3 linked regions of the Homo sapiens genome follow. The protein of the gene in region 1 interacts with the protein of each later gene in a biochemical or structural test. Each region holds a gene or a part of one and is shown in the gene's direction. Other genes may lie near its edges.

Evidence for each region. Proteins that work in one complex are often made in the same cells at the same time.
Region 2: the proteins of RPS15A (region 1) and UBE3A form a complex in vitro, tested with the Homo sapiens proteins (one large-scale study listed by BioGRID).
Region 3: the proteins of RPS15A (region 1) and RIOK1 are reported together in a solved structure, tested with the Homo sapiens proteins (one study listed by BioGRID).

The regions. Positions count from the first base shown.
Region 1 is NC_000016.10:18,784,065-18,787,334, reverse strand, and holds part of RPS15A (small ribosomal subunit protein uS8), read left to right. Parts: intron 1-2,511; coding exon 2,512-2,597; intron 2,598-3,270.
Region 2 is NC_000015.10:25,429,025-25,432,524, reverse strand, and holds part of UBE3A (ubiquitin-protein ligase E3A), read left to right. Parts: intron 1-3,500. UniProt on the Homo sapiens protein: E3 ubiquitin-protein ligase which accepts ubiquitin from an E2 ubiquitin-conjugating enzyme in the form of a thioester and transfers it to its substrates.
Region 3 is NC_000006.12:7,406,808-7,410,307, forward strand, and holds part of RIOK1 (serine/threonine-protein kinase RIO1), read left to right. Parts: intron 1-3,500. UniProt on the Homo sapiens protein: Involved in the final steps of cytoplasmic maturation of the 40S ribosomal subunit. Involved in processing of 18S-E pre-rRNA to the mature 18S rRNA. Required for the recycling of NOB1 and PNO1 from the late 40S precursor.

The DNA.
Region 1 (3,270 bases):
AAATGGAAAAGAGGGATGAGGAAGGGGCCTTACTGGCCCAACTAGAAACAGAAACTAAGAACCCATGACTGTATTCTCTCCCTTGGACACCCCTGTGTTTATTGCAACAGATAGGGGGGAAAGAGACCCAGAAGGTGAGTTGCTGAAGTATTTGTTAAAGATTTGAAGAACTAGCTGGGCACAGTGGGTCACGCCTGTAATCCCAGCACTTTGGGAGGCTGAGGCAGGCGGATCACGAGGTCAGGAGTTTGAGACAAGCCTGGCCAACATGGTGAAACCCTGTCTCTACTAAAAATAGAAAAACTAGCCAGGCGCAGTGGCGGGCGCTTGTAATCCCAGGTACTCCGGAGACTGAGGCAGGAGAATTGCTTGAACCTGGCAGGCGGAGGTTACAGTGAGCTGAGATCGCACCACTGCACTCCAGCCTGGGTAACAGGGCAAGACTCCCTAAGATTTGAAGAACTTGCAAGGGTAATTTTCAGTATGTCATGTTTTGTTCTAGTTGTAGCCATTAGAACCCCACCTCAAAATAGGATTGATTTATTTTTATTTATATTTCTTTTGAGATAGTCTTGCTCTGGTTGAGGCTGGAGTGCAGTGGCGCCATCTTGGCTCACTGCAGCTTCCCTAGCTCAAGCCATCCTCCCACCTCAGCCTCCTGAGTAGCTGGGGAATACAGGTGCATTCCACTGTGACTGCTGATTTTTCTTTAACTTTTTTGTAGAGGTGGGGTCTCGCTATGTTGCTTAGGTTTGTCTTGGACTCATGGGCTCAAGTGATCCTCCCACCTCAGCCTCCCAGAGTGCTGGGATTACAGGTGTGAGTCACTGGGCCCAGCCGAGAAATAAATTTGAACAGAGCATTCTGTAAATGGAACTTATTTGTGGCACCCTTGTTCTGTGGTATGCTAGTTTGAAAAATTCTAGCCTACAACAGTTGATATGCAGGCCCTGCTGCTCTCTGCCCGTTTTTTGAGACGGAGTCTCACTCTCACCCAGGTTGGAGTGCAGTGGCACGATCTTGGCTACTGCAACCTCTGTCTCCCAGGTTCAAGCGATTCTCCTGCCTCAGCCTCCCTAGTAGCTGAGATTACAGGTGAGTGCCACCATGCCCGGCTAATTTTTGTATCTTTGGTAAAGACGGGGTTTCGCCATGTTGGCCAGGCTGGTCTGGGACTCCTGACCTCAGGTGATCCACCGCGCCTGGCCTGTTCTGTGACTTTCGACAAAGCAAACAATTTTTGGTTTCTTGGAATTTCATTTCTCCCCATTTAAAAGAGAACGTCCCCCTCCATCGCTTTCATGCAAGACATGGACCTACCCTTAGCGTGGAAATTGAGCTTGGAAGTAAGGTAGTGTGTAAAGACTAGATTGATTAAAATTCTGGCCTTGATCACATCCTCTTACGATTCTTCTGGGTTGGGGGAGGGTATGCTGTTTTAATTCTACCAGAATGAGAAGAATTTTTGCTGCTGGAATCAACATAAAACTTGGATGCAGCGTGCGGCAGACTTTGGAAAGATCTTTCACTATAGCTTGCTTGGATAAAACTGGTTTTCCCATATTCCTATCCCTGCATTTCTTTCATCTGCCGTGAGATTGTCCTTGTTAGTCAAGTCACAGCATAGCTGATGGGGTAATAGTAGGAGAACTTAAGCAGGCTTCCTGGCGTAGAGCAGTTGGGCCTTTCTGACAAGCCCATTTTCAGTTTCTGTGGGTCAATCTCTGCTTTTGGAAGTGTTTTTCAAGTGTGCCTGTGATTTTAGAGCAGATTTTGTGAGCAGAGGGTCTTCAGTTAGTGGACATCAGTTAGTGGACTTTCTTCAGTAGTGTTTTAGGGCTGGCATGTAGTTGAGTGATGGCAGCCCTTGGCGAGCTTTTACTTGGGAGGATCATTGTTGCCATGTCCCAGTAGCCACGAGATGAGATAATTGCAGGCCCTTTGCTCTTTCTGCCTTCCATCATTCTGTCAGATTTGTTTGGAAAAATTTGTCTGGGGCTGTAGGACATTGTTTCTTGGAAATATGTAACGGTACTTCATTGGTGGGAGCAGCGTTCTTAGTTCAGTGCCTGGACAGCGTGTTCCTTAGATATTCTAATAATTTGTAGAGCTTCAGGATTTGAGACCCTATGATTTTATTTCAGCCTTATTATGTAAGAAAGGGTTGGCTGTAGTCTCTCTTGTCGAGACTTGATCTCTAGGCTATGTAAAATCTGATCATCCTGGACAGCTCTCCAGCCAACAGGGAGCACGCCAGTGGCCTGACACTGCCATGTATTGCCTTGTTCCATCTCTTTGCATGCCTTTGCTTTTTCTCCTAGGCAGGCGTAGTCTTACTTAGGTGTATTTTTTGAAAAGTATGTCAAGCATTGTGCACAGAATAAGTACCCATCTGAATGCTGGGTTGGTTGGTTTGGAGGACTGTTTATTTATGAATGTCATCTTGTGTTACTCAGTTTTTCTGTTATTGGTAAAGTGAAGAATGTTTTTGTTGTTGTTGTTATTTTATAGTGTGGGGTGATCAGCCCCAGATTTGACGTGCAACTCAAAGACCTGGAAAAATGGCAGAATAATCTGCTTCCATCCCGCCAGTTTGGGTAAGTTGGCCTTTCCTTAATTAAAAGAAGTTAATGCTAAGAATTTCTGTGGTGCAGTTTGACTTAAGGGTTTTTTTCTTTTTTTCTGTTTAAAACAAAGCAGTGGTAATTTGTCTACTCTTAACCATTTTGACCTAATAGCTCAAGTGTTATCCATATTTCTTTTCTCTCTCTTTAAAAAGAGACAGGGTTGGCCAGGCACAGTGGCTCACGCCTGTGATCCTAGCATTTTGGGAGGCTGAGGCAGGCGGATCACCTGAGGTTGGGAGTTCGAGACCACCCTGACCAACATGGAGAACCCCGTGTCTACCTAAAATACAAAATTAGCCAGGCCTGGTGGCACACACCTGTGATCCCAGCTACTTGAGAGGCTGAGGCAGGAAAATAGCTTGAACCCGGGAGAGAGGTTGCGGTGAGCTGAGATTGTGCCATTGCACTCCAGCCTGGGCAACGAGTGAAACTCTGTCTCGAGAAAAAAGAGAGAGAGACAGGGTTTCACTTTGTTGCCCAGGCTGGAGTGCAGTGGCTGTTCACAGGTGCGGTCATAACACGCTACAGCCTTGGCTTCTTGGCCTCGAGCAGTCCTCCCCGCTCAGCCTCTTGTGGATTTGGGAATACAGGCGCCTGCCACCGTGCCTGGCTATTTGCCACATTTCATGTGTTGAGCTTCAGG
Region 2 (3,500 bases), on another chromosome or scaffold:
GTTCCTTTTCATATTTAAGACAAGCACTCTTGCATACAAATTACATAGCTGTGGGCTGAATGAAGATGCTACCATTGCTGTACTTCTACACAGGTTCTTTTCATGTAATGAAATCAGAAGGGATGGCTTTTCCATTTCAAGCTTCTGTTAATAAGTAGTCTTAGAATTGCCTTTGTGTACTGTAGCCAACACCCCAACTCATATATTTTTATAATCTTTGTGATGCAGAATAAATTCTGAAACTTTCCACCTCCTAATTAAATATAGAAATACTGAAAACAATAAAGCACCATGTATTCACTATGGACATATGTCACATTTTGTCACTTTCTTGCACTCTTGTAATCCCTCTCTAAAGCTCATGTTAAACTCATGTTCTTTATTTTCTTCTCAGATGATTCCTTTGGCACTGCATGTAACAGTACAGGAATTTCTTCCTTTCGTACTTCCAACAAATACTTTTTTGTCTCTTAACAGATGTGAACCATAATGCTGTTCTTTAGAAAGCAAAGGATGAAGTGCACAGCAGTGTTTTCTATATAAAGCTAATGGGTCATAAGGGGAAATATGGGTTATTTCCAGCTTGTTAATTGTCTTAATACATTTTTCCTAAGAATTCTATTGTGCCTCTGTGGTTATATGCACCAATATTGATAATCTTACAGCGTGCCATAAATAAGGATTTTTATATTATCTTTGCTAAATATTTTAAGTTTTTGTTTTGGGAATTGAAAAAATCTTTTGTGCATCTATGGTATGTGATACGTATACTAATGGATAAATCCTGTTTCACACAAAGATTAATTGGGTAACATTTTTCTTTCCTAGTTTTCTGAAGTCAGTGGTCATGTTGTGTGTTGGTGATTGAAAATATGCTGTTTAGGCTGGGCGCCTTGGCTCACTCCTGTAATCCCAGCACTTTGGGAGGCCGAGGCACACGGATCACCTGAGGTCAGGAGTTCGAGACCAGCCTGGCCAACATGGTGAAACCCTGTCTCTACTAAAAATACAAAAATTAGCTAGGCGTGGTGGCACACGTCTGTAATCCCAGTTACTTGGGAGGCTGAGGCACGAGAATCGCTTGAACCTGGGAGGCAGAGGTTGCAGTGAGCTGAGATCACACCATTGCACTCCAGCCTGGGCAAGCAAGATTTCATCTCAAAAAAGAAAAGAAAAGAAAAGAAAATATGCTGTTTAAGATCATTCAAATTCAGTTTCTAAGAAGTGTAAAGTTTTCCTAATTACTTAAGCTGCTTCATTCTCATTCCCTTTTGTAACACATTTTGCCATCTCTGTAACATGTTGAACATGTTTAAAGAACAGAGTGGGAGAATAGGAAGTTACGTGGATAAAGTTTGGTAATCAAGGTAGGAATACATCCTGCTTCACAGAATGGGAATATTTCTGAAAAGTTGACTGTAGTATTGAAGAACACTTAAGTGTAGTGTATTAGACGAACTGAGCTAATTTTGGTCTTTTATACACATAAATCAAGATTTCTGCATTTCAAATCATGCATATTTCTTTAAATTTATTGCTCAGTGTACTGTATTTCAAATATTGTAAAAATGAAAAGATCTTGTGGTCTTATTTAACTCAGTATGGGATAAGTCCTTCCCACCTTCCCATTCTTATTCCCTCTTTTAGGCTGAATGAAAGGCTGGGGGAGTGAATTTAAAAATAGATGGATCTCAGCTGGAGAATGGGTTGGTCACGTATCTCAACTGATATTAAATAATTTCTTAAATCCTGGATTGAAGATTATAAGAAAACAGTAAATGTTTGCTCTCAGTTCATTTCTTTGTTTTGTTTTTTCATGTACAGTTTTAGGCACTTGTAACTGCTGGATGCATGAACTACTTTCTAGTTCTTTCAGGCCTACTTTTAGATATCTGCTGTGGGGACAGTCCTCAACACTTAAAGTAATTTTAAATAGTGATAGGCAGAACTAGGGGTCAGTTTTACTGCCTATGCCTGTGCTGAATTTGACATGGCATTCCTAGGAGGGGAGGTGGAACGAGGGCGGTGCACACATTGTCCATATTGCTAGTCAGTGCCAGATTTTGAGAAACTGGGGCTAATCTCTCTCTTAAATGGTCAAGATCTAATTCCCCAAAGTGCTGTTTCAGATAACCTAGTATTTGTCCAAAATTGCCCTGCTACAATAGTATTTATCTTATATATATGTATTATATATATAATATATATATAATCTTATATATATGTATTATATATATTATATATATAATCTTATATATGTATTATATATATAATATATATATAATCTTATATATATGTATTATATATATAATATATATATAATCTTATATATATGTATTATATATATAATATATATATAATCTTATATATATGTATTATATATATAATATATATATAATCTTATATATATGTATTATATATATAATATATATATAATCTTATATATATGTATTATATATATATAATACATATAAATATATATATATATATATATATAGGTTTTTTTTTGTTTTTCCTCCTGAGATGTAGTCTCGCCCTGTTGCCCAGGCTGGTGTGCAATGGTGCAGTCTTAGCTCACTGCAGCCTCCGCCTCCTGGGTTCAAGTGATTCTCCTGCCTCAGCCTCCTGAGTAGCAGAGACTACAGGTGTGCACTACCACGCCCGGCTAATTTTTGTATTTTTAGTAGATACAGGGTTTCACCATGTTGGCCATGCTGGTTTCAAACTCCTAACCTCAGGTGATCTGCCTGCCTCAACCTCTGAAAGCACTGGGATTACAGGCATGAGCCACCACACCAATCCTATTACATTCTTAAAAAAATGTTTGTTTGTTTGTTTTTGTAGAGATGAAGTTTCACTATATTACCCAGCCTGGTCTTGACTCCTGGGCTCAAGTGATCCTCCTGCCTTGGCGTCCCAAAGTGCTGGGATTATAGACATGAGCCACTGCGTCCAGCCTGTATCATATTTTTATTCTGATATCTTTTGTAATTTTGTTTTTAGTGAAGTAGGGAGGTTTATATTAGATAATCTTCCAAGGTAATTATCAGCTTGGACATTATATGCTAATATGTCTTTTGTTTGTTTTTAAAATAAGTGTATATGTTTTAATTGTAAAATTTTTAAAACATCCAGAAAATGACATAGCAAGTGCCTATTTATCCACCACCTGGAAATATAAATTATGTCCATTTTTATCCCTTGGGGGAAAGGATGCAGTTATATAATCACTTTTAACAACCCCAACTGTTCAAGTCCTGTTACCCGTCTCTACACAAAGTAACAACTGTCTTGAGATTCTTAAGTAAATTTCACATCCTTGTTTTATACTTTTACTATACATGTGTACATGTATCTGTAAGTGATATGTGGTGTTGGTTTTTGTATTAAATTTTTACAGACATGTATAACGCTGTCTTTCAATAGCTTGATTTTTTTAAACTCAGTATCAAGTTTTTGAGGTGTATATGTTGATGCGTGTACATGTAGTTTATTCAGTT
Region 3 (3,500 bases), on another chromosome or scaffold:
GAGCCACTACACCCGGCTAATTTGGGTATTTTTTGGTAGAGACAGGGTTTCACCATGTTGGCCAGGCTGGTCTCCAACTCCTGGCCTTAAGTGACCCGCCTGCATCGGCCTCCCGAAGTGCTGGGATTGCAGACATGAGTCACCACGCCTGGCCTAGGATTTCTTCTTTTAAGGCTGAATAATGGTCCAGTGTATGTATATACTATATTTTGTTTATCCATTCATCTGTGGATGGACATACGGGTTGCTTATACCTTCTGGCTATTCTGAATAATGCTGCTATGAACATGGATGTATAAATATCTCTTCAAGATGCTGCTTTCAGTTCTTTCGAATATACACCCAGAAGTAGAATTGCTGGATCAAATGATATTTCTATTTTCAAGTTTCTGAGGAACCCACCATACTGTTTACTGTAGTGGCTGCACCATTTTACATTACCACCAACAATGCACAAGGGTTTTAATCGCTCCACATCCTCACCAGCACTTACTAATCTCCATACCCTCACCAACACCTATTATTTTGTTTTTTGTTTTGTTTTGACAATGAGAGACCCCCTAATGAGTGTGAGGTGTATGTTATTATGGTTTTGGTTTGTGTTTCCCTGATTACTAGTGACGTTGAGCATCTTTTCATGTGCTTCTTGCCCATTTATATATTTTCTTTGGAGAAATGTCTTTTTTTTTTTTTTTAAGAGACAGGGTCTCTCTGTTACCCAGTCTGAAGTACAGTGGTACAATCCTGTCTCACTACAGTCTCAACCTTCTAGACTCAAGCAGTTCTCCTGCCTCAGCTGCTTCAGCCTGCTGAGACTATAGGTGCAGACCATGACACCCAGCCAATTTTTTTTTTCTTTTTCATTTTGTTGGGACAGGGTCTCACTGTGTTTTCCAGTCTGGTCTTAGACTCCTGGGCTTAAGCACTCCTTCTGTCTCGGCCTCTCAAAGTTCTGGGGTTGCAGGCATGAGCCACAGTGTCCAGCCCCATGTCTTTTTTTTAATCAGGTTTGGTTTTTTTTGTTGAGTTGTTTGTATTTTCTGGATATGTCAGATACGTGATTTGCAAATGTTTATTCCCATTCTGTGACTTGTCTTTTCACTCTGTTGATTGCAAGCTTTGATGCACAGAAGTTTTAAATTTTGATGTGATCCAGTTTATCTATTTTTATTTTTGTCTCTGAATCATAGAGTTTTGAACACATGGCATGTATGCCTCTACACAGGTTTTCAGGTTTGTTTGTTTTTGAGATGGAGTCTCGTTCTGTTGCCCAGGCTGGAGTGCAATGGCACAATCTCAGCTCACTGTAACCTCCACCTCCTGGATTCAAGTGATTCTCCCACCTCAGCCTCCTGAATAGCTGGGATTATGGGCACCTGCCATCATGCCCAGCTAATTTTTGTATTTTTGTAGAGATAAGGTTTCACCATGTTGGCCATGGCAAGTCTCGAACTCCTGACCTCAGGAGATCCGCCTGCCTCGGCCTCCCAAAGTGCTGGGATTACAGGCATAAGTCGCCTTGCCTGGCCAGGTCTTCAGGTTTTATCCTGTCCTTTCCTCTTTTTCCATTTCCTTGCAATACCTTCCCATTTCTGCCTTTGCTCAACTTTGCTCCGCCTGGTGAACTTTAAAGCTCCAGTTAGAAAGCTCTCTGGAGGGGTATTTCAGCAGAAATTGTTTTCATAGGTGTAGTCTCCTACAACTATAATAGAAGTAGTCACACTGTGTCACTTATTATACTAAGTCCCTAATTCTGTCACCCTCAATTATGAACTTTTATGGAACAGGAGTTTTCTCTATTGCCAAGTACCCAATATCTGGCCCATAGTAGGCAATCACATCTGTTAATGGAATAAATAAGTGTGTCATTTTTATTCCTCAACTTTTTAACTTAGCACTGACTTTCTTTTTCTTTTTCTTTTTTTTTTTTTTAAATGGAGTTTCCCTCTTGTTGCCCAGGCTGGAGTGCAGTGGGGCAATCTCGGCTCACTGCAACCTTTGCTTCCTGGGTTCAAGCGATTCTCCTGCCTCAGCCTCCCGAGTAGCTGGGATTACAGGCATGCGCCCCCATGCCCAGCTAATTTTGTATTTTTAGTAGAGATGGGGTTTCTCCATGTTGGTCAGGCTGGCCTTGAACTCCTGACCTCAGGTGATCCATCCGCCTCGGCCTCCCAAAGTGCTGGGATCATAGGTGTGAGCCACCGCACCCGGCCTCTTTTATTTATTTATTTTTTTGACGGAGTTTCGCTCTTGTCACCCAGGCTGGAGTGCAGTGTGCAATTTCGGCTCACTGCAATCTCCGCCTCCCAGGTTAAAGCAGTTCTTCTGCCTCAGCCTCCCCAGTAGCTGGGATTACAGGCACCCAGTAGCTGGGATTACAGGAGCCCACCACCACTCCCGACTAATTGTGTGTGTGTGTGTGTGTGTGTGTGTGTGTGTGTGTGTGTGTGTGTGTGTGTGTGTTTGAGATGGAGTCTGGCTCTCTCACCCATGCTGGAGTACAGTGGCACGATCTCGGCTCACCACAACCTCTGCCTCCCGGGTTCAAGTGATTCTCCTGCCTCAGCCTCCAAGTAACTGAGATTTCAGGTGCATGTTAGCATGCCTGGCTAATTTTTGTGTTTTTAGTAGAGACGGGTTTTCACCATGTTGACTAGGCTGGTCTGGAACTCCTGATCTCATGATCCAGCCGCCTCAGCCTCCCAAAGTGCTGGGATTACAGACGTGAGCCTCAGCCTCCCAAAGTGCTGGGATTACAGGCGTGAGCCTCAGCCTCCCAAAGTGCTGGGATTACAGGCATGAGCCTGTAATTAGACTGCACCTGGCCTAATTTTTGTATTTTTAGTAGAGACGGAGTTTCCCCATATTGCCCAGGCTGGTCACAAACTCCTGATCTCAGGTGATCTGCTGGCCTCACCTCCCAAAGTGCTGGGATTAGAGGCGTGAGCCACTGTGCCTGGGTCAGCACTGATTTTCGTGTCTAAACTCAAAAAAAAAAAAAAAAAAAACCTCTGCTCCCACTATTTTTTCCTTTCTTCTATATAGAGAAGAGAACACTCAGTTTTACAAACCAAAAGAACCCTTTGGAATCTTTGTCACCCTCGTTTCAGTCATTGTTTGCTCAGAGAGCTTTCTTCAGTGCAGCAGCAATAAAGCCGTATATTCAAGATTTACAGCCAGCCTTTGCAATTCCCTTCGCCGACTGCTCAGGATTTAAGGAATGGTTCTTTCATTCTTTAGGTCTCTGTATTCCTTTAGTAAATGCTAAAGCATTTACTAAATGCAAAAGCTAATTATTTAAATTTAGTAAAAGTAGCATAACTTTTGAAAAAGGGGGGCTAGGGATCCCCCTAGGCTAGAAGAGTTTGATTTATTGTTACTTTTGGGTTGATGGCAGCCTTTTTGGTGAGGTCTGTGCTGGAAAGCTAACTTGTACCATTAGACCTCACTAAATGCTTTCCTAAGTGTGAGGAGGTGATACTTAAAAAGACTGGAACAAT